3 linked regions of the Homo sapiens genome follow. The protein of the gene in region 2 interacts with the protein of the main gene of each other region in a pairwise test. Each region holds a gene or a part of one and is shown on either strand. Other genes may lie near its edges.

What was found. The genes of interacting proteins can lie anywhere in the genome.
Region 1: the proteins of CCDC116 (region 2) and TADA2A interact in binary tests that used the Homo sapiens proteins (3 or more experiments, as listed by UniProt).
Region 3: the proteins of CCDC116 (region 2) and CDCA7L interact in binary tests that used the Homo sapiens proteins (3 or more experiments, as listed by UniProt).

Annotation. Positions count from the first base shown.
Region 1 is NC_000017.11:37,437,778-37,445,309, forward strand, and holds part of TADA2A (transcriptional adapter 2-alpha), read left to right. Parts: coding exon 1-52; exon of another isoform or gene 53-181; intron 182-2,727; coding exon 2,728-2,885; intron 2,886-4,786; coding exon 4,787-4,875; intron 4,876-6,918; coding exon 6,919-6,991; intron 6,992-7,532. UniProt on the Homo sapiens protein: Component of the ATAC complex, a complex with histone acetyltransferase activity on histones H3 and H4. Required for the function of some acidic activation domains, which activate transcription from a distant site. Binds double-stranded DNA.
Region 2 is NC_000022.11:21,628,799-21,636,291, reverse strand, and holds the start of CCDC116 (coiled-coil domain-containing protein 116), read right to left. Parts: upstream 3,533-7,493; 5' UTR 3,465-3,532; intron 3,313-3,464; exon of another isoform or gene 3,309-3,312; coding exon of another isoform or gene 3,111-3,308; coding exon 3,039-3,110; intron 2,271-3,038; coding exon 1,722-2,270; intron 1,608-1,721; coding exon 1,026-1,607; coding exon of another isoform or gene 648-1,025; exon of another isoform or gene 489-647; intron 1-488. Other genes in the region: YDJC (carbohydrate deacetylase), read left to right, coding at 6,278-6,441, 6,531-6,690, 6,885-6,984, 7,105-7,282.
Region 3 is NC_000007.14:21,942,476-21,950,994, reverse strand, and holds the start of CDCA7L (cell division cycle-associated 7-like protein), read left to right. Parts: upstream 1-5,095; 5' UTR 5,096-5,190; coding exon 5,191-5,214; intron 5,215-8,519. UniProt on the Homo sapiens protein: Plays a role in transcriptional regulation as a repressor that inhibits monoamine oxidase A (MAOA) activity and gene expression by binding to the promoter.

The DNA.
Region 1 (7,532 bases), on a different chromosome or scaffold from region 2:
AAGAAGAAATGGCCCTTTTAGAAGCTGTGATGGACTGTGGCTTTGGAAATTGGTAAGAGCTTGGTGTTAAGAGTTGTCCTGCCCTAGTGGACTCAGAGAAGAAGCTGTTGTTGAAGAGTAAAGGAAGGAACCTCAGGAAGAGAAAGTATGTGTTGCTTTCCTATCAACCCATGATTTAGAGGCAAGTTAGTCCCCTCTGTACATTATTTTTCCAGTGTCGAAATGTGTCACGAGGATATGGGATGTTTAGCGGTCCATGACTGAGCAGCTTTAAAAGGCCACTTTGGATGTATCAACAGTGGGAAGATTGATTATTATTCCTTTCTGAATAGTAGGGAAGTTTAGTTTCGTTAGTTATTACTCCCTTCTGATTTTATGAATTTTTGTTAGTTGTAGATGCCCTAGTCATTTAAGTGAATCAGACTTTAGCTAGATGGTCATACGTAAGATTCAAGTTTCACAGACTTCCTGATAGCATTCTCTGTTTTTAGCTTTCAAACACCTACCTGCCTTAGTCCAAAACCGGCGGAATTGAATAGCACTTATTGCTGTTGACCTAGGGGGCAGCACCACTTAATACTACCACTTTCGTTTTTATCTTTTGGGAACACTTTCATATGGATGCTTTTATTTTATGAACTAGATAGCAGAGGCATTATTGAATATATTTTGTTCACAAATTATCTGAAGCCTAGGGGGTTGAAATGATTTCTTGTGATTACATAGCTTATTACTGAAGGACTCTTAATTAGGTCCTCCCTGTCCTGACTTACTAGTGTATATAACCTTTCTTGGTGTTCATCAGAATAAACTCTGCTGCCTGCCTCCCTTATGTCCAGGGACCTGAAGAAGGAGACCTGAATTTAGTTCACATTTTGCTTGTATTCATTCATTCAGTATTTATTAAGCATCATAAAATACTGTGTACAATGAGAAATACCAAAGGAGGTAGAAAAGTAATCACTTGTGAGGAGTTTGCTAGTCATCTTTGGCCTAGTTTTTCATTTTTTGCTTACCATTCTCTCTAAAATAGTCTAAACCTCTCTGTCCTCCTTCCCTCTTAACAAAGAACATAAAAAAGACATAGCTTCTCTATCCGCTGTGGGTAAGGCACTAAGTTTGGCAGTGAGTGGGCTAGAGCTAAGAATTATGAGATGCATCCTGTCTTCAGAAAGCTTATAGTTTAGCAGGGGACTTAAAAATACAAGTGATTGAAGTACACAAAACAGCACAGTGATGCCTTAGGGGAGGTCAAGTGAAATGCTGTGAAAAAGAGACCTTGAGGAAAGGACTTCCACCTGTACCTCTCCATTACCTTGGCTCAAGTCAGGGATTTTTTTTTATTGAGACAGTCTCACTTTATCACCCAGGCTGAAATGCAGTGGTGTGATCACAGTCACTATAACCCCGAACTCCTGGGCTCAAGGGATCTTCCCTCCTCAGACTCCCAAGTAGTTGGAACAACAGGTGTGCGCCACCATACTCAGCTAATTTTTAAATTTTATTATTATTATTATTATTTGGAAACAGGATCTTGCTCTGTCGCCCAGGGTGGAGTACAGGGGCATGAGCTTGACTCATTTCAGCTTCAACCTTCCAGGCTCAAGTGATCCTCCCAGCTCAGGCTCCCGAGTAGCTGGGACTACCGGCGTGTGCAACCACCCCTGGCTAATCTTTGTATTTTTTGTTGAGATAGGATTTTACTGTGTTGCCCAGGCTGGTCTCGAACTCCTGAGTTCAAGCCATCCTCCCACCTTGGCCTCCCAAAGTGCTGGAATAACAGATGTGCCCCACCATGCCTGGCCAGATTCTTAAGCAAGTTTCTTAATTATTTTGGGCCTCATTTTTCCTTCTTTGAAATTGAGATAGTAACAATATCCATACCACAAATTTGATACTAGGTTTAACTTAAATTCTGTTGTGAATGTTTCTAGCTCAGTGTCTGGCATCTCATAGCAGCTCTAGTAAAGAAATGTTTATGTTAAGTGTTTGGTAAACCGTAAAATATTAGGCAAAATAAAACTATATTTCTGTATATTTTGAATGTTCTGAAGTCACTTCTTATTATTTACAGCAATTATTTCTGTAGGGCCTAGCTCACAGGAAAATTTACAAATTTTCCAGTCATCTTTATTTATTTATTTATTTATTTATTTATTTATTTATTATTTTTTTTTTTTTTTGAGATGGAGTTTCGCTCTTGTTGCCCAGACTGGAGTGCAATGGCGTGATCTCTGCTCACTGCAACCTTTGCCTCCTGGGTTCAAGCAATTCTCCTGCCTCAGCCTCCCAAGTAGCTGGGATTACAGGCATGCATGCACCACCACGCCTGGCTAATTTTGTATTTTTAGTAGAGACAGGGTTTCTCCATGTTGATCAGGCTGGTCTCTAACTCCCAACCTCAGGTGATCCACCTACCTCCCAAAGTGCTGGGATTACAGGTGTGAGCCACTGCGCCTGGCCTCAGTCATCTTTCTTTAAGTGGAAAAGAAAGGACTTTTTAGTCATTATTTCTGTGTTTTAGACTAGCAAGATATGGAACACCAGATTACACCAATCTAGGCTTATATTTATGTCATTTTTCTGCTGATATCTTTTTGATATCAATTTGGAAATATGAGAGTATATTATATGGATGTGACTTAAAATATGAAAAGAGCAAATGATGCTTTTAGTATTATGTGTAAATACAAGTACCACTTCTCTCTTTTTCCCACAATCCTCTAGGCAGGATGTAGCCAATCAAATGTGCACCAAGACCAAGGAGGAGTGTGAGAAGCACTATATGAAGCATTTCATCAATAACCCTCTGTTTGCATCTACCCTGCTGAACCTGAAACAAGCAGAGGAAGCAAAAACTGCTGACACAGCCATTCCATTTCACTGTAAGTGCCTCCCTATCTTGATAAGATATACTTAGCTCATCCTTGGGCCCTGTTTCAGTAGCAGATAAAGAGTGATTTGATGACTTGGACAGCTAATGATATCACGGAAGATAGGAGGAGTTAGTATGGCAGCTATTGAGAGTCAGGATCGACCCAGCATGGTGGCTTGTGCCTGTAATCCCAGCACCTTGGGAGGCTGAGGCGGGTAAATCACTTGAGGCCAGGAGTTCAAGACCAGCCTGGCCAACATGGCGAAACCCTGTCTCAACTAAAAGTATAAAGATTAGCTGGACGTGGTGGCAGACACCTGTAATCCCAGCTACTGGGGAGGCCAAGGCAGGAGAATCACTTGAACCGGGTAGGCGGAGATTGCAGTGAGCCAAGATCACATCACTGCACTCCAACCTGGGTGACAGAGTGAGACTTCATCTCTTAAAAAAAAAAAAAAAAAGAGTCAGGATTATAATGTGGCAAAGAAGGAACATACTCTAAGGGTCAGAGTTCTATACAGGACATCAAGGTGCTTGAAGCCAATGTGTAGTTCCACCTACCTTGAGTCCTTTGAACATATCAGTTAACTTAGTGCTTTCCTTTGTAAAATAAGATGTCAAAAAGGGAAAACCTTTTCTATGCTATTATGAGTGCAAGTTTTTTTTCAATCCCTTTGGAGAGCTTATGATTATACATATGAGTTGCTTAGAGAATACAGTATTTGACTCATTATTATTAATTGCCTTGGTGTCAAGCCCAAGAATCAGTTTGTTATTTTTGTTCGCTTGGTTGTGTCAGTGATGGCGAACTTTTTAATCTCATGTGCGTGTGGGACCAGTGGGTCTCTTAATAAAATATAACCAAAAACATGATGAATTATAAATGACCATCTTTCCTGAATGACTCTCAGGGTACAAGTAATGAGATATGAATGTTTTCACTTCCCTTTTCTCTTTCCTCATACTCTCTAGAAACAGTTTTATAGCTGACTAACTTAAAGGCTGGTAATACCTCCTTTTTTTTTTTTTTTGGAGACAGAGTCTCGCTGTGTCTCCCAGGCTGGAGTGCAGTGGCACAACCTCGGCTTACTGCAACCTCCACCTCCAGGGTTCAAACGATTCTCGTGCCTCAGCCTCCTGAGTAGCTGGTACCACAGGTGCATGCCACCACACCTGGCTAATTTTTTGTATTTTTAGTAGAGAAAAGGTTTTGCTGTGTTGGCGAGGCTGGTCTCGAACTCCTGACCTTATGATCTGCCCGCCTCGGCCTCCCAAAGTGTTGGGATTACAGGTGTGAGCCACCGTGCCTGGTTGATACCTCCTATTTGGATAGCACTTTGGTGTTAGCACTTTGTTCTCAAATCCATTAGACCATTTGTTTCCTAACAGCAACCCAGTGAGATAGGCAGAGCAAGTGCTTTTGTTTTACATTCGAGAAGACCGATGCAGACAGGTTAGTTTGTGCAGGGTCATGGGACTAGTGTGTGTTGGAGCTAGGACTTAATTTCAGCTAACTTCCAATTCCAGTGTTTGTTTTTTTCCCGTCTTTTTTTTTTTTTTTTTTTTTTGCCTCTCAGTTGGATGAGTTTTGTAAATTGAAGTTCATCCTAAGGGATAAGGGAGCCGAAGCCAACGGTAAATATTTAGGTTCTGTAATATTAAAGGAAAAAAGTCATGATTTCCTTTCATTTTAGGAAAGCAGAAATCAGAAGAAATTTCCCCATATTTACTTAAAGGATTGCCTGAGTCTTGGTTTTTCTTTTTAAAAAACCTGTTTTCATAATACTTTATCTTTTTCACATTTCCTTTTATAAAAACCATTTTAAATTTTATTTATTCTTGGACTATTATGTCATTTTTTTCATGCCAATATTGTATTAGTTAACTCAGAAACCTTCTAAATTCTTCCAGCTACAGATGACCCTCCCCGACCTACCTTTGACTCCTTGCTTTCTCGGGACATGGCCGGGTACATGCCAGCTCGAGCAGATTTCATTGAGGTAGGATAAATGTGTTTTTAGCACAAAGTAGGAAAAATTCATTTTTGTTTCTCATGAGCCTTCTGTCTCACCCATAGATTCCATACCACTAAAAGGAGATTTTTCAAGGCACTATAATTTGTAGGACCTTTAGGCAGCCACATTTTCTTAGGTTTGAGTGCCTTTTCTCATTTGTAAACATTTTCACATATGGAACAGTAAAAATTCTTTAAACAAACAACCTATTTCTGGCCAGGCTCAGTGGCTTACACCTGTAATCCCAGCACTTTGGGAGCTGAGAATGGAGGATCGCTTGAGTCCAGGTGTTCGAGACTAGCCTGGGCAACGTAGTGAGACCCTGTCTCTACAAAAAATAAAAAATTAGCTGGGTGTGGTGGTGCATGCCTGTAGTCCCAACTACTTGGCAGGCTGATATGGGAGGATCACTTGAGCCTGGGAGGTTAAGGCTGTAGCGAGTGGTGATCATTCCACTAAACTGCACCCTAGACAACAGAGTAAGACCCTGTCTCCAAAAAACAAAAAAACCCCAGCAAACCCACCTCTTAAGTTGCATCAGTGCTGGCTTCCACTTCCTTAGGTATGAAATTCCTATAGTCTGGTTCTTTTTTTTTTTTTTTGAGACAGAGTTTTTGCTCTTGTTGCCCAGGCTGGAGTGCAATGGCATGGTCTTGGCCCATTGCAACCTCCACTTCCTGGGTTCAAGCGATTCTCCTGTCTCAGCCTCCCAAGTAGCTGAGACTACAGGTTCCTGCCACCATGCCTGGCTAATTTTTGTATTTTTAGTAGAGATAGGGTTTCACCATGTTGGCCAGGCTGGTCTCAAACTCCTGACCTCAGGCAATCCACCAGCCTCGGCCTCCCAAAGTGCTAGGATTACAGGCGTGAGCCACTGCACCTGGCTTGTAGTCTGGTTCTTATTGTACATCTAGGGGCTTTCAAGATTGTACTGTATCAGGGGTTGACAAACTTATTCTATTAAAGGCCAGATAGTAAATATTTTAGGTTTAGTATGCTATAAAGTTTCTATTGTAACTATACTTTGTCATTATTGTGCTAAAGCAGCATGGGATAATATAAGAATAAATGAATACGCCTGTGTTCCAGTAAAACTTTATGTACAAAAACAGACAGTAGGCTGAATAGTAGTTTACTGATTCCTGTACTATATCCACAAGTATATAAAGAATGATGAATGTGTATAAAAACTATATGTTCCTTGCTCAGCTATGGAATTAAAAGACATGTGAATGTAGCCACAAGTCTCTTGATTTATCATCTAATTCACAACTTGAAAGATAGTTTGGCCAAATGCGGTAGCTTACACCTGTAAATCCCAGCACTTTGGGAGGCTGAGGCAGGCGGATTGCTTGAGCTCAGGAGTTTGAGACCAGCCTGGGCAACATGGCAAAACGCTGTTTCTTCAACAACAACAACAAAAAAAACCCGAAACCAAAAATTAACTTGAGTGTGATGGCACATGCCTGTAGACCCAGCTGCTTGAGAGGCTGAGGCAAGAGGATCACTTGAGCCTGGGGGTTCGAGGCTGCAGTGAGCCAAGATCACACCACTGCACTCCAGCCTGAGTGACAGAGTAAGACCCTGTTTCCAAAAAAAAAAAAAAAAGAATGAATTGACTTTATTTATTTATTTCAGAGACAGGCTCTTGCTCTGTTTCCCAGGCAGTCTTGAACTCCTGGTCTCAAGTGATTTTTCCACCTAAATCTCCTGAGTAGCTGGGATTATAGGTGCATGCTACTGTGCCCAGCTCAGACTAATTTTAGTTTTTAGAGCAGTATGTTTAGCTTCATTCCTAAACTCATAACTATTCCAATTTTTTGTTGTCACTACTGCTTGTAAGCCTCTTAGATTTTTCCCATGACTTCCTATTACCTGTGCCAGTATTGTGGCCTTTTGCCATATTTAGACTTTTTAAACAACTGTTTGCTTGTGTTTTTTCTGTTTACTTCTAAAGCATGGCTGCTGTAAAGACACTAATCAAAGCCGATGGGTTTGGGGTGGGGATTTTTTTGTTCCCCTAAACAGGAATTTGACAATTATGCAGAATGGGACTTGAGAGACATTGATTTTGTTGAAGATGACTCGGACATTTTACATGGTAACAGTTTATTTTGTCAAATGTTTATCGAGCGCCAACTGTGTGATGACACTGTCTTGGGTGCTAGGAATTGAAGGATGAATAGAACATGTCCCCTGCCCTTATAGAATTCAGAAATCTAGTGGTTAAGTTGCTGAACTTACTGTGTTGTTGGATTTTGACCACAGTGAATAAGACTTGTGATGAGGGTAAAAATATTGATTATATAATAGTAGTAGGAAATATCTGTTGGACTGTGTGATTTTACTTTTATCTGAGGTAAATCTACACTAAGGTAATTGGTTAAATGGCCCTCACTTGCATTCTTAGAAGGAAGGGAATCAGTTTGAATTCTTGGGACTTCACTAGCAACTGCTATCACTAAATGTTCACTATATTTTGTTACCCGGAATTTCCCCTAGCAAGGAAAAAGAATGGAAATTCCTCAAGAGTTTTTAGGCCCAAATGGGGAATTTCTTGTTTCTCAGGACTGTTGAATTTTCAACACTGCTGGATTCTTTTTTATGTTTGTTTTTGAGACGGAGTCTCACTCTGTTACACA
Region 2 (7,493 bases):
GTGACAAACACATTTGCCACACGAAGGGTACAGCCTTACCACACCTGCTATGCTGTTGCACTCAACTGCCCACTCTCATGCTCACCTCGCCATCACACCTCCTACAACTGTTGGGCCTGGGGCAAGGGCAGGGACCTGTCACAGGGTAAGGCTAATCTGAGCCTTGACAACTGGGTTTGGGCAGGCTCCTGCCCAGGCCTGTGCCCAGAGACAGCTGCAGGGGCCTTGATGGCTGAGGAAAGGGTCGAGGGACCGTGCTGGAGACCCACCAGTGTGAGGCCACCTACGTCTTGTACACATCCTCCCTGGGCAACTTCCCCTCAGCAAAGTCCAGGGACTGGAGAGTCCTGCTCGAGGCAGCTGGATTCAAGGGAGCTAGACCTAGGAGGCAAGGCCCCGGCTGGGCTTGGGCTGCTGTCCACAAGGGACGGGACTTTCCACCCCCATGTAGGAGCGTCTCTAGATTCACATACAAACGTTAGAAAAAATACCCAGCATAAAAAATAGCCTTTATTTATCTGTGACAACACCTGGTAATAGCTAGGCCAGGATTCATGGGCCCCCATCAGCTTGACCCCTGCCCAGGAGGTTTCCACAGTGCAGGGCAAGAGACCTTGACCTTGAGCACCTGTTAGTGACAGTGGCTGCTAGGAGTGGTGGGTCAAGGAGCCCTTCTCCTGCAAACTCATGCCCGGTCCTACTTTTGAGGAGGTCACCTCTGGACACAGTGAGGCGGGAGATGAAGAGGCAACTGGAGAGAGCTCAGGGAGAAGGTAGCAGGAAGAGCGGGGGTAGGGGGAGGAAAGTGGAGGTGTGACAGGGCCCCTGAGGTGGCCCTGGCTGCAGGCCACCTCCACCACAATCCCTGGCGTGGGCAGGGTGAGGTGCAGGCCCTGCCAGGGCTGGGCCCTCTGGCTGGAGCTCAGGGAAACAGGTGGGTTTTGTAATTTGGGATCTGAGTCAGGTGCCTCCTCCCTGGAGTGGAGTGAGGGGCTGGGGACATTGGGCTTCTCCGTGGGTGTCACCTTGAGTTTGAATCTGGTGGCCACCTGGGCACTAGACATGGAGGGGGAGCCTCCTCTGTCCTTGCGTTTTCTCTGAAGCATCTTGGGGCTGGAGACTGTGGGGCGGGGGGAAGCATAGGGCTGCCCGCCATTGGTGGGTTTAGCTGGCTCAGAGCCCAGAGGCGGCAGATCTGAGGTGGGCTCCAAGCTGGTGGGGAACAGAGGACGGCCGTCGCGGCAGTGGGCGCCACGGAGCTTATCCACAGCCTGGCTGACCACGCTTTGCAGGGCAGGGAAGAGGCGGTGGTCAGCCAGGAAGTTCAGCGTGCGATGGGGCTCACGGAGCGGACAGTAGCCAGGCAGGTCGAGGGACTCCAGCTGGCTCAGTAATGACTTGATCTCCTTATTGAACTCTCGCTTGCGGAAGATTGGCTCCTGTTCTCCAGGCCTCGGCTCTGATGCTTCAGGCACGCCAGAGCTTGAGCCCAGCAGCCCTGAGAACCAGGACAAGGGCTGCTCCTGTGTCCACTGAAAGCTGGTCTGGCTACCCAGCGAATCCCACAGCAGGGAGTCCCTCTGGGAGCAGGACTGACTGAGGCCTTTCTGCAGAAAGAGGGTGACTCTGTGAAGTGTTCAGGAGCAGCCAAGCCAGGGCTGACCCTAGCCCTGGGCTCTCCATGGGAGTCCACCCCACCCAGCCATGGCCCTGGCTCTCACCCCTTCCCTCTCCAGCTGTAGCAGCCGCTTGAGGTTCTTCTCCAGCAGGAGTTTGTCCCTCACAGGTGGCAATGAGCCTTGGGCACCTAGGTCACTGTCCCGGCTGTGGGAGCCCAGACAGCCGGCCATGAGGCTGCTATGGCAGTTGGACATGGAGCTGGAGCTGGATGGGTAGTTGTTGGGGTGTCCAGTGCAGAGGGTCGGCCGTACACGGTGCCGGTGTACGGTGCTGAGGCTGGGCCGGGCATGTGCCCGCCGTCCACCACTTGGCACCTCCACTGGGTCCTGCACCTCCACAAGCGGCACCCCAGCCTCCGTCTTCATGGCAGCCATGCGCTCAGTCGCCTTCTCCACCACTGTCTCCAGGCTGTCCAGGACCTGGCTCTCAGTTAGGAAATCCAGAAAGTGGCCAAAGGGCTGAGGGTGCCTCTTGTTTCGGCGTTGGCCCTGGAGTGCTGAGCTGCCACATGTGGATGGTGGGTGTGGCACACGGCCCGGCTTGCAGGCTGGCCGCATTTCTGGGACCAGTGGCTTCTTGGGCAGCTGCACCTGAGCAGACAGGTATGTCACAGGGGGCAGGGGTGCCCTACAGGTGAAGGGTTCCCTGGGGTAACACTAGGACCTGGGTGGGAGTGAGTAGTGGAAGGAGCTGCATTTTGGAGTCTGGAAGCCCTGGGTTTGGACCCTGGCTCTGCCACCTACAGCCTGATGCCAGTGTGCAAGATGGCCCCTCTTGAGGTCCAATGTCCTCATCTGCAAAGTGGAGGTCTATTCAGGGTCACCCCGAAGCTTTCCTAACACCTACATTTCACACACACAAGTCCTGGCTAAGGAGTCTGCAAGCCTGCTTCTGCCCTGACACGTGGCAGGATGAGCAATCATGAATCTCTCGGAGTCTCCCTCCAGCTCCTCATCTGTCCATGCAGCAGGCCATCCCTGTATCCATGGCAGGGCTGCAAACAACATCTGAGGTCTTGAGTGCAGACAACACCTGAGGTCTTGAGCCCTGTGCTACCCGGGCCTGTTTCTCCAACTTGAGCCATAGGCACCTAGTCAACTCCATGCTCCCACTCTAGGGTCCCAGTCCACCCAAGCACCTTCTGGGTCGCTGGAAGTCAGGAGGAAACAAGGAATGAAATTGAGTGTGACAGGGGCAAGCAGTGGGGGACATAGGAGAAGTCAAGGCAATAAGGACTTCACTAAGAGGCCCAGAGAAGTCAATAGACAATGAGAAATGGGGGTTGTGGTCTTGGGTGCCAGGGTTGGTGGGGAACATGTTGTGGCCTCAAGGGTCGGCGCCCTGCTGGGCACACTTACCCGTGCACTGCACATGGAGTGGCTGGCCTCGTCATCGGCCAGGTAACCCGAGTGGTGGCGGCACCTGGCCATGTGGTCACCTGGCAGGTGACCGGGCCTGCTGCCCACCTCTCTCTTCAGCTGCGCATTCCTCTCTGCGTGGGGTGGGGAGACAACCTGAGGGTCTCCAATAGGTCCACGCATCTGTGGCCCTGGAGTCTGCGGGTCCCTCGCTCCCCGCACCCCGCCTCCTTCATGCATCCAGCCCTTCCTCTGCTCCATGGCCCCCATGCGTCTGCAGGCAGGCAGTTTCCAGAGTCATCGGGGTGGAATCGCTGAGGACAATCCTGTCTCCGATCATCTTTGGATCTGCGTGTGCTCGACCCGCCCTCCTCCCAAACCCTGGGCAACCTGGCTTTCACCCCAGCCCAGAATCAACAGACTCACCAGAAACACCGCCTTGCTCCGCACAGGCCAGTACAGTCTGCGCCCTCACTGGAGCAGCTGCACAGTGCGAGGAAGTCGGCTGGCGGCCTCCACTTGCTTATTTGCATACCACATCCTCATTGGTTCTTACCGAGGAGCTCGTCCACTTCCCTCTCCGACACAATGGTTGGGGGCGGGGCCCACATTGGCCCCACCTCCAATTCTCTGGGCTCTGCCCTCCCACACTCGCCTGGGAGCCGCAGGCTGAGGATGCTGGTGCCCACGCTCCCCGCTGCCGGGAGGACCCCCCACCCACCACCGAAGCTGGGGCTAGGCTCTTTGATCTGCTCCTGCCCCGAGGGGAGCCTAAAAGCCAAAGCCACGTCTTCCACCGGTGGCACAAGCACCTTCCTCGTGTCCTCCTTGGTTGCTGCGCAGCCCTGGGCCTCCTGCTCCTGTTCGTTTCCAGGGGCCTCTGCCCTTCCCGCGGTGTGCACAGCCCCAGGTTCTGCCTTGAGACCTCTCCCCTCTGCAGTGGAAAGAGTGCCGGCTCTAAGTCACAGACCTAGCTTCAGTTCCTGGCTCTGCTCTTTCCTGCCAATGTGACTCAACCTCTCAGCATTAGTCCCACACTGTAAATGGGCTTGAGTGTTCTTCCAATATGGGAGTATGGGATTCAATAAAATCTCCCTACAGCACACCCAGTAACCCAGTGGAGCCTTGTGTATTCTTTAATTAATTAATTTATTTATTTGGAGACGGGAGTCTCGCTCAGTCGCCCAGGCTGGAGTGCAGTGGCGCAATCTCGGCTGACTGCAAGCTCCGCCTCCCGTGTTCACGCCATTCTCCTGCCTCAGCCTCCCGAGCAGCTGGGATTACAGGGGCCCGCCACCACGCCCGGCTAATTTTTTTGTAGTTTTAGTAGAGATGGGGTTTCACCGTGTTAGCTAGGATGGTCTCGATTCCCTGATCTTGTGATCCGCCTGCCTTGGCCTCCCAAAGTGCTGGGATTACAGACCTGAGCCACCGCGCCCAGCGGAGCCTTGTATATTCTTACCTCCTCTCCCTCCCTCCTTTTCCCCTTTGCTCAGTAATACCCCACCATGGTGTCACTTCTTCCAAAAACCTTTTACTGTGAATTCTGCCACGCCCTACGCAATTCACAGTAAACCCCATTCCAGACTCTACCATACCATGTTGCTACTTATTTTTCTATCAGATGGTGCTTCTTTGGGGCCAGAACAGAGGCAAGTCACCCTTAATCTCTAATACTTTCAGTGTCTGGCACCAAGTAGGTGCTCAATAAATGTCAGTCTCCTCCTTCCCACCTGCAGACCCTCGGGACCTCTGACCTTTCCAAGATCAGCTTCCAGTGGAGAACGGTGGTTGGTTGAGGTCTGACAATTCACCAGTCACTATAAACACATCAGTCCTTATGCCAAGAGCATGGCTGAAGGACTCTATGAGGCTTTCAATCCTCACATGCCTCACGAAATATTGTTCCTCTCAAGCTCTGCTCTGTCCTCTCAGCTCTGGCTACCCACTAGGTCAGGGACAGAGAGGACATAGCAGGCCTGGGTGCTGGCCCCGAGGTGTGAGGTTCAGTCTTAGCTCCACTACTCCTGGCAGGACCACACTTTCGCTCTCTGAACCCCAGTTTCCTCATCTGTGAAACAGGAATGACATTACCAATTTCATAGCCCGGACACAAATACCACACTTTCCATGGGAAAAATCAAGACTGTCACATTGCAATGGAAACTGTGGCTGCCAACCATAATGACTATTTATACAGTCATGGGTAAGGAAAGCTTTTCTGGACCAAAGAGAAAACAGTGAAGTTATGAATGTAAAAGCTGTAGCCTGGCAGAGAGCTCAAGATGGAAACTGGAGATAATGTTTTCTCAAATGAAGCCTTAGTGTATATGCTTTCTTTCATTTTCTTAGTGTCTAGAGCTCAAGAAAAAAAAAAAATCAACAAATCAAGAAAATGCCTGCTCTTAGAAAAATCTGCAAAAGATCAATAGGCAATTTGAAAAAGAATAAAAATAGCTAATAATATGAAAATTTTCATTCGCACTGCTAAGAAACTACTAGAATGTGATAACATTGATATAATCATCTTTATGTTCTCAAAACAACACACAAAAAAGTTGGGTTGGGGAGAAAGGGAGTTGGGTGTGTTTATTTGCTTAGAGAAAACACTGGAAGGACACAACCCAGAAAGTTTACAATGGCAATCTCTGGGAAGGGTAGGAGATTCTTTTTTTTTTTTTTTTTTTTTTTTGAGACGGAGTCTCGCTCTATCGCCCAGGCTAGAGTGCAGTGGTGCGATCTCGGCTCACCACAACCTCCGCCTCCCGGGTTCAAGCCACGCTCCTGCCTCAGCCTCCCGAGTAGCTGGGATTACAGGCGCGTGCCACCACTCCCGGCTAATTTTTGTATTTTTAATAGAGACGGGGTTTCCCCATGTTGGCCAGGCTGGCCTTGAACTCCTGACCTCGTGATCCACCCGCCTCGGCCTCCCAAAGTGTTGGGATTACAGGCGTGAGCCACTGCGCCCGGCTTCCTTTTGATATTTTACATATTAAATATCACTTTTGCAGTCAAGGAAAGTTCCGCATTGCAATGAATCCATCACTGGTCTGGTTAGCGCGGGAGCAGTTGCCGGGTCCTTGCAGGGGCACGCCGGACCGCTAGGTGGCGAGAACAAAGGCGAAGTGCAGCCGCACCTGGGCGTGTGCGTCGGGGCGGGGCCCGGGCAGCGTCCGGGGGCGGGGCCTGGGCTGTCCGGCCCACTCCCCTGGGAGCGCGAGCGGTGGACCCAGGCGGCCATGTCCCGCCCTCGCATGCGCCTGGTGGTCACCGCGGACGACTTTGGTTACTGCCCGCGACGCGATGAGGGTATCGTGGAGGCCTTTCTGGCCGGGGCTGTGACCAGCGTGTCCCTGCTGGTCAACGGTGCGGCCACGGAGAGCGCGGCGGAGCTGGCCCGCAGGTGAGGGGAGGGCCTCTAGCAGGGCGGCGATCGGCTTGGGGCGCGCGGCTCCGCGGCCGCTAGTGCTCCAGCTCGCGCTCCGCCCTCAGGCACAGCATCCCCACGGGCCTCCACGCCAACCTGTCCGAGGGCCGCCCCGTGGGTCCGGCCCGCCGTGGCGCCTCATCGCTGCTCGGCCCGGAAGGCTTCTTCCTTGGCAAGATGGGATTCCGGGAGGCGGTGGCGGCCGGAGACGTGGATTTGCCTCAGGTGCGGAGCCGCAGCTACAGGAGGATGCTCGCGAGGACCCCCAGAGCTCCGCCCGGAGGGTACTGTGAGGCCGTTAGGAGCTGGCGGTGGATGACTTCCGCATTCAAACACTGGAGCCATCACACGGAAGCACGAGGAGGGTATCCTCGGCAGCTACTCCCGGTCGCTCAAGGTGTCTCTCGCTCGCCCTCTAGGTGCGGGAGGAGCTCGAGGCCCAACTAAGCTGCTTCCGGGAGCTGCTGGGCAGGGCCCCCACGCACGCGGACGGGCACCAGCACGTGCACGTGCTCCCAGGTGCGTGGTTAGTGATCCCAGTTTGGAGGGCGTTACTCCCAGGCGGGGCTGGGGGAGTAGGGGAAGTTCGATGCCCCCAGGTGAAAGGACGTGCTCCTCCCTGACCCGCTCCGCCCGCAGGCGTGTGCCAGGTGTTCGCCGAGGCGCTGCAGGCCTATGGGGTGCGCTTTACGCGACTGCCGCTGGAGCGCGGTGTGGGTGGCTGCACTTGGCTGGAGGCCCCCGCGCGTGCCTTCGCCTGCGCCGTGGAGCGCGACGCCCGGGCCGCCGTGGGCCCCTTCTCCCGCCACGGCCTGCGGTGAGGCTCCCCGCCCCGTCTCCTACCATAGCTGCCTCTGTCCCTCCGCACTGGCTGTTCACCTGGCTAGCTGTGTCCGTTTCTCAACCCGGAAGCGAGTCTGGCGTCGACCGCTGCCGCCACCCCAGTTACCCCCTCCCACCCCGCCGTCCCTTCCCTAGCCTACCTAGCCCTTGGCCATGGCCCGGCCTGGTCCCACCTCTGATGTCCC
Region 3 (8,519 bases), on a different chromosome or scaffold from region 2:
AGCAAATAGAGATTACTTACCATACCTGAAGCAATAAAGTTTTCCAAATATTATAACAAATATTGATACTTTGACTTTCATCTCTGAAATACTGTATGGTTGGTTATTTTAGCCTTGACAAAATAGAAATTAAAAACTGCTTTTAAAAATATCCTGCATTTATCTATTGAACTAATGAAATATTTTATGACTTTTTGTTATTTAAGAAGTAAAAGTTATTTTTATAGATACATTTATTCTGAGCTCTGTATATTGACATTTTATAGATTATTTTTAAGTATGCTGCCTAAATGATTATGAAAAAAAGTGTGGTTCTTTAAAAACTACGTACCAGAGTACTTTTGTTGATACCACTAATTGGAAATTAAAAATTTTCTTTTATAAGACCTAAATTCATAGAAAGGTAAGAATTATTGAATAAGATGTTATTTTCGCTCATTTGTTGTCAGTGCCTAGTCAAAATAATATTTTATGTTCACATACTAAATGATAAATAATGCACCATCTATTACAAAAACCTATGTAATATGGGTTGCGTTAATCGTATTTGGAGTTTACATAGCATCTCTAAGAAATCCCAAATGCTTTGAAAATATTGTTTCACTTACTTTTACAGCACTAGTTTTGAAAAGATGTAGAACTCTCAGCTGAAGGATTCAAGGAGGGAACACATTCAAAGGTTAATTCAGCACAGGGCTTAGAGCATAGTGAGTACTCTTTAAATTAGCTGCTATTCTTGATATCACTATTACTATTGACTTTTTGAAAGACCACAGGCATTAAAGTTTCATCATGATGTGTATTTTTCTGCATCTGATATATGGACAGATCTGATTTTTGATTGTCCAGGTTATTTTGTCATAAGCCATTAGGGTGATTTTCATCACAGTGTTGTGACAACATCATCTTGACATACCAAGTCAGGAAGATGGAATACCGGGTTGTAATAATAATAAAGAAAAACGTTCCAGAAACGCACCCAGTCAGTGTTAGATGATGATTTTACAAAAGACTCAGTTCTAGATCTTTGATTCTGTAGCAACTTGGAAATTTTATATCTGAATGTTTCAAATTTAGGGAGGTCTCCCCATTCTAGGGTAGGTGTTATCTGATCACAATGAGATGGAAGTTTCAAGAGACCAAGAGCTAGAGAACAACCAGTGATGTTTTCCTGTTTAACGGTCACTTTATTTATTCACGACCACATACAATGCCAAGTGGTACTCAGATACTGTTACCAGCTAGGTCCTAGTCTGTTCTGCCCTGAACAGTAAATCAATTAGTGTGACATGGGTTTTGCAAAAGAAAAAAAAGATTTATTCACAAGGGCATGGAGTGAGGAGGTGGGAGAATAGCTCTGAAGTACGCCTCCCTGAAGATAAGGCTTAGGGATATTTATGGGTTAGGGAAATGGGGTGGTCTGAGTTATGGGGAAATGTAATCGGCACTGGGAAAAAAACGAAGTAACAGGCTCATTCTGCACAAATGTAGCCAGAGTTCATGGCATTATATAGGACATATGTACAGAAAAATGGCAGTGTTAGCATGATCTCAGGGTGGAGTTTTTGACCCTCTGACATCAAAAGGCCACCTCTCAGGCACTTGAAGAGTCAGTGGCCTCAACCAGTTTGAACTGGACAGAAGCTGGCCTAAGTTTCTGAGAAAAAAAAAAAATGGAAGCAACAGTTACCACGGTGACCTATGAACGTTATCTATAAAGTAGCCAGTGAAGTTAAGTCTCAGTGTTCAGTGGTGCGGTGTTCAGCTACTGCAGCCTTCAACTTCGTGGGAAAAGGAAACAACACCAAGAGGCAAATGACCAAAAGCAAGCAGGGGAGGCAGACCTAATGAAATTACCTCTCAGTTTCTATAGACTCATGCTGCTTCCAGCTCTCTGCAGAAGGCAGATTCTCTGGTGAGTTGTCCAGAGCACCAAACCAGCACGATTTTCTGTTATGTGGGGAGGACTAGGGAGTTTGCCCACAACTAAGCTCTGTGGGGACGGCAGAGATACTACTTCAGATAGAGGAGAGATGTTTGGGCTCCTTTTACAAAGCAAAAATCGTGGGCCAGGGTTGACATCCAATTACAGCTCTCTCACATCATTTAATGAGGTTCAATAATGGCTTTGTAGGGGAGTAAAACTTCATCTCCATCCTTTTGGGTCCTGGCTGGGTCTGAGGATTAAACTGACATAAAATAGATTAACAAGAGAAAAGCATATAGATTTGTCTAATCGAAGTTTTATGTGGCATGGGTGCCTTTTTAAGGAAATGAAGACCCCAGGATGAAGTTTGAGTTGGACATTTATATAGTGAATTGCACAGAGTAGTAAAACTGAAAATGCGATGAGGCAAAGGGGCATGGGCTAGTGTAGTTAATTGGGTGGAGAAGTGACTGAGAAGATAAGGGTTAGTTTAACAAGGTTTGTTTGTACAGATTTCCCTCAGCTTCAATTTCCTGTCTTTGATAAGAATGTGGCTTTCCTTCTTGTGTAGGGAGGACAGCTTTCATAGGGGAATTTTATCTCCTGCTTTTAAGAAACAACATTAAGTTCAGAGTGATCTTCTCCTACCTGCTTTTTTTTTTTTTAAGTGCTTTTAACTAAAAATAGTGAATATGCCAGAGCAGCATATTTTAGTGTGGCATTATTAACTCCTTTGGCTTCTAATCACAAATTTCTTACCTTGTTCAAGGTACTGGGGACCAAGTTTTTACTCTCTCATGGAAACATTTAAAAAGCAATCAAGCATGGATTTCTAGACAGACTTCTTAAAAGAAGTTGCAAACATTATGTCTTCTTTTTCTGTGTTGCAATATGTATACTGTTGCATCTGGAAGGGACACTCATTCTTGCAGTGCCATGATGAAACCCAGTGCTCACATCCCGTGAACCCTATCAGTAATAATTATTAGAAAGTATTACTGCAGTGCCATGTTTAAATCCTCTGGTTCCTTAGAGATTTTCCCAAAGCCTGACCAAAACAAAACAAAACAAAACAAAACAAAACACACCACTATATAATCAATTACTAAATACCATCAAACGTGTACAGGCTTTGCTAAGCACAGGAAGAAAATTTAGGGGTTGTCATCTGAAGACTTAGGGTTAGTTATGGCAAATTTCTAAACAGAAAGGTTCAACAGCTTACAGGTTTCCTGATACAGAAGTAGCTAGTCTAGGCTGCTTCAAGTGTTTTGCAAAATCTGACCTGCTTCAAATTTGTGCTCCCTTTTCCAAAATTGATTTGATTTAACCTACAATGAAAAGAAGTGCAAACAAGATCAGCAGTTCATGAGGAAGCAACTATCTAAAAAAAAAAAAAGAGGAAGAAGAGCTCTGATTGAATTAATTTTCACTCTAAGCTTCCTGGCAGCCAAAGGGAAAAAATACAGAAAAATGGAAAGAATGTTGGATCTGGAGGCATAAGGAATGGTTTTCAGTTTGGCAGTCTGCTGCTGTCACTTAGTGGCAGGGTGGCAGGGATCTCTTAATGTATTTTCTTAGATTCTGTTTCCTTATTTTAAAAATGTGGACAATAAGGATCTGGAAGGATATTGAGAGGATTCAAGGAGATACTGCATGTGAAGGAAAACTCTAAAGCATAATAAAAATGAAGTGGCCATAATGAATAAATAACATTATCCAATAAAAACAAAACATTTTAAGTCACACAATGTTGTATTGGTTTTACTACCACCAGGAAGTGAGAACACTGAGGGCTGGAACATGAAAGCACATAACACATGTTGTTTGCTGAACTAACCAAAGGAAGGAAGGAAACCTTTTCCATGTTTTCTCTTCAAGCTTGAGTAAATGTTTGGCAAATTTCATTCACTCGTTCAATAAAGAAAAGATGAACGTCAGATCCTAAGCAGCTGAGAGGGGCTGCAGAAGGTCCTATGCGTACAGGATGCTCTACTGTAAACCTATGACCACGGTTCTAAATAGGTGTGCAACACTGTCCAGCAAACCTGCTGTGATTTCAGGACAACTTCATTTACCATTCTCCCCACTCTCTACTTCAACTCTCCCACAATTTCCACAAACTTAATTCCTCACTCTTCATATCTGAACTCTAAGAAGTATTCCCTGACCTCTATCAGATTGTCTTCCTATTTCACACCACCATTAATACCACTTGCCTTTTTTCTCATGGCATCATCGCTCCAAATTTACATTTATTTGCATCATCATTACATTTGTCATTGATAGTGGTATCAAATTAATATTAATTATAAATCTAATTTATAAAATTTACATCGTTATTACACTTATTTGCATCATTATTGTATTTATTTAGAATAATGCAATTAGGTTGGTAACTGGCTCTCAGGCTGTAAACTCCAACAGAGCAGGGGCCTGTTTTTGTTCACCCTTCTGTTCCTAGGACTAGCCCAGTGCCTGATGCTTAGTAGATGCCGGGGTCAATTCTGTTAAATTAGTCAGCATTCCTGACCTCTACAAACTCTTTGTCTGGTGGGTGTGGAGGCCTACTGTGTAATGGCCGTCTAAAGTTTCAGGCGGGTTTGCATCTGTCCACCTGGGCCTTGGTAAAGAAACCTGGGTTGCCTGTTCTGCAAAGTGAACCCTGTAGCAAATGTTTTGGGAGACAGAATCTTCCCAAAGAGAACCCTGCCCCGTTACAACAACAAAACAAAACAAGCCCCAAAGCCGCCCTACAATATTTGCCTGGATCAGAGACAGGGGTTGCAGCAGAAGCTCGCGCCCCAGGGCATGACCTGGAATAAACCCTGCCAAGTATCCAGCGCGCGTGCCAGCTGGAGGCTGCGCCGGGACAGCCCCCTCATTTCTCCCGCGCTAAACCCCGCCGGACGGCTCCACTCCCTCCCTCTGCTGCAGGGGGGAGCCCGGCGCCCTAACACTGGTAATTGCTCTTGCCGCGCCCAACTGCAGCCCCCTCTCGCGCCGCCTGCGAAGACAAGGTCAGTGGCCGCGAAGTTGGAACGTGATCGGAGCCACGAGGCCCAGTGAGGCGGCACCGAGGGGGCAGCGCAACGCGCTCCCCCTGTCCAGGGCGTCAAGTGCGCCCCTCCCGGGGCCCGCCTGTGCTCCGGGCGGAGCGCGCTAGCTGCTCGGGCGCGGGGCGTTCTTGGTGCGCCGGGCCGTGGTGAGTCCGGGCTCCCGTGGCCGCGTGCTGGGAGGAGACTGGAGCCCGGTTAGGAAGAATGGAGTTGGCGACTCGCTACCAGGTGAGGGTCCGGCCGCCCGCCGCCGTCCGGACGCACCCACAGTTTGACTTCCCTTTGCCACCCGGTCCTGCTGGCCTTGGGCTGGAAACGTGGCCCTTGGCTGCGGCACTGGGGATCTGGCGCGCCCAGCCGGTTGAGTGCCGGAGTGGGCGCGCCCTGCAGGTGTGCGCAGTGGGTCACGTTTGTGCTACGCGGACCACAGAGGCCGGTCGCCCCAGCACACAACCGCGCTCAGCCTGGCGCTCTGCTCAGTCTCGGGTGGCCGCCGGGGGTGCAGGCGGGGAGCTAGCGGGGCGCAGCGCCTGCGTTTGCAGCCCTCGTGAGACGGGGGAGGGGCTTTTTTTGTGCACTCCCCACACTTTCTCCGGGAATTGGCACAGAGATCAGGAAGCTTAAGAAAGTTGTAATTTTTTTTTTTTAACAGTCGATCGCCAGACCAGTCCAACTTGGATAATGGAGTTTAAAAATAATAACTTTAGTGTTTATTCTAGAACTTTTGTAAACGTTTTCAAGGAATTAGTAACCATTTGGGGGAAATGGTAACGTCATTGGGCCGAGTTAAACAAGCTGCAAGATCCCAAATCATATGCACAGCACGACCCCAATTACGCGTTAAGGGCCTAACTCGTCTTTAAAACTCATTAGCAAACACTTGAGTAAGTTCCCCCAAACGTTTCAGTGAGTAGTGGGAATGTGAACGTGACTTCAGTTTTCTCTTTTTACTTCTTAAAAGAGCTTTTCTCTACGTTATCGTAATGGAGATACATGTTTACTTAGAAGTAAGCAATAAAAACATTTTTCATAAGAACTAAAAATACAACCTTTAAAAAGGGAAACAAGCAGCCACGCCTCTGCTTGTGGGAGCACGGAGATGCTTTGTGCGAGGATTGTTTTTTTTTTTTTTTCCACTTGTTTTATTGAGAGTCGCGAGACTCACTGCTTCCACCTTGCTTCCGACTGGTGTTTACTTTCCTCCACCTGCGTGCCTGGCCCGGGAGAAGGGGAGGCGGGGCCGCCAGCGTTGGAAGGCGCAGAGTGCCCGGCGCCCGAGCCCAAACCGCTGTCACCTGCCCGAGTCTGGCGGCAAAGACTGAGCCACTAACGGTAGCTTTGGCCTTTTAGTAATTTCTGAAGCCTTCCTGAAAATGGTCGCTTGAGAAAAATCTGTTGTTGATGTTTCTGAGAATATTTTTAAAATGCCTCCTGTGAGATAAACTATTAAAAGCAAGGGAAACAGTAAAGCCTACGGAATGAGACAGGGTTCGATTTTTTATTTTTTGCCACTGGCTTTTACCGTGTATTAGCATCCTTTTTTTTTTTTTTTTTTTTTTGGAGACGGAGTTTCGCTCTTGTCCGGGGTGGAGTGTAATGGCGCGACCTCGGCTCACTGCAACCTTCGCCTCCCGGGTTCAAGCAATTTTCCTGCCTCAGCGTCCCGAGTAGCTGGGATTACAGGCGCCCGCCACCACGCCTGTCTAATTTTTTGTATTTTTTTTTTTTTTTTAGTAGAGACAGGGTTTCACAATGTTGTCCAGTCTGGTCTTGAACTGCTGACCTCAGGTGATCCACCTGCCTCGGCCTCCCAAAGTGCTGGGATTACAGGCGTGAGCCACCACTTCCGGCTGGCGTCCTAACCTTCTAGGAGTTTCTGTTGCTACAGGACTAAAAACAAAAAACAAACCCTCTGGATGGAGATTTGAGCTCCTTGTGAGTTTAGTCAGAAAATGTATCTGGAATTTATCACTCCGGAGCTCCTTGTGAATGTAATCAGAAAATGTTTCTGGAATGTGTCACTCCTGTTGTTAAGCTGGAGAGTTCTTTGCACTTCCACTACTGATATTCATAATTCATGCTTAGGAAACTCAGAAGTCCCAGAATGTGTAGTTGGAAGTGAGCGTTTACTGCCACACAATGAGGCTAATTTTTGGTAGTTCTAAAATGTTAAATAAACTATTTATCATGTAGGGGTTACCCACAAATTATATCCGATCCATTATGCACCAATTAAGGCAAATTACTATATGTAAGATGATCAGGGTTTTTTTTTTTTTCCTTTTCTGAAGACCTAATTGGCAGTGCAAATCAAAGATGTGTGATGGTTTTTCCAGTGGAAATGTTCCTGTTCATCGTAATTTAAATGTGCACAGATTATAGTCTCTAAATTAGTGGAGAGTGGTTCTGTGGGGTGGGCAGGTGACTGCGGATAAGAACACTTAATGAACATTTCAGGCACAGCAAGATGTTAAATTCGTGTGGTTCCACCCTGTCCCCCAGCCTTATGAATAAAGCAATGTGATGAACCACCTGAAGTGGCATTACTGCACATCAAATGTCGCTCAGCTCAGTGTGCAGTGGGTTTTCATCTCACACATTGGAGTAAGTATAATTTCTATCGCTTGGAAAGCGCAGAGCTAAGTGTTTCAGCAAAGCAGCTTAGGCCTAATGTTATGAGTAAGAAGCAAACAAGGAGACTCATTTACTCTGAACTACTTTCGAGTCTGCTTTCCTGCCATCCCACCAGTGTGTTGGATTTGATGTCCTCTGACAGTGATTACGCTTCCCCCAGGCTGTAGTCTTGTCGTGCTGACCACTGTGTCTTTGTGCTTTTATATAAAATGACAGAAATAGCTCGTAAAGGCAAGGGTGTGATCCCTGACTAAGAGCTGTCAACAGTGCAGCTCATGGGAGCTCCAGCTTGCTGCAGCTCCGTAGGAGAGAAACTGGTAGGCACTGAATGTCAGTGTTCTCCTCGTACTCTGTTCTAGCTCCAGAGTACAGGATGGCCCATTTGAGAAGGAAATGATGCTAAATGTTCTTGTAAATAGGCAGGAGCACGCTGTTGAAGGGGTAAAGGGGTATTTTTCTGGTATTGGTCTCTTAGCTGCAAAGTGCTCCCATCTGATCCTGTTGTTTAACATGTAATTCCAGAGCCCCAGAAGCTGGTCACAGAAAGGACAATGATTTGCCACTCTAATAGTCTTGTATTTAAAACGCTCCTTGGTTGTTCTGTGTTCTGCTGGCTACCCCATCCATAGCAGAGCAGGATTCTCAAAAATCAGGCGAAAACCTCAGAGATCATAATGATTCTGATCAGGTACACAGGCCAGGAAACAATGAGATAATTGTGGCCTAAAACAATTACAAACATTAGAGTAAATTAATGAAAAAGATTAGAACATCATTGGAATAGAATAAGCCAGGCATTACATTTAAACTGCTCTTGAGAGTTTTCCTTTACTCAAAGTTATGTTTTAGAATATTTACCTCCAGTATACAGTTTTGTTTTAGAAAAGACTCGGCTTTAT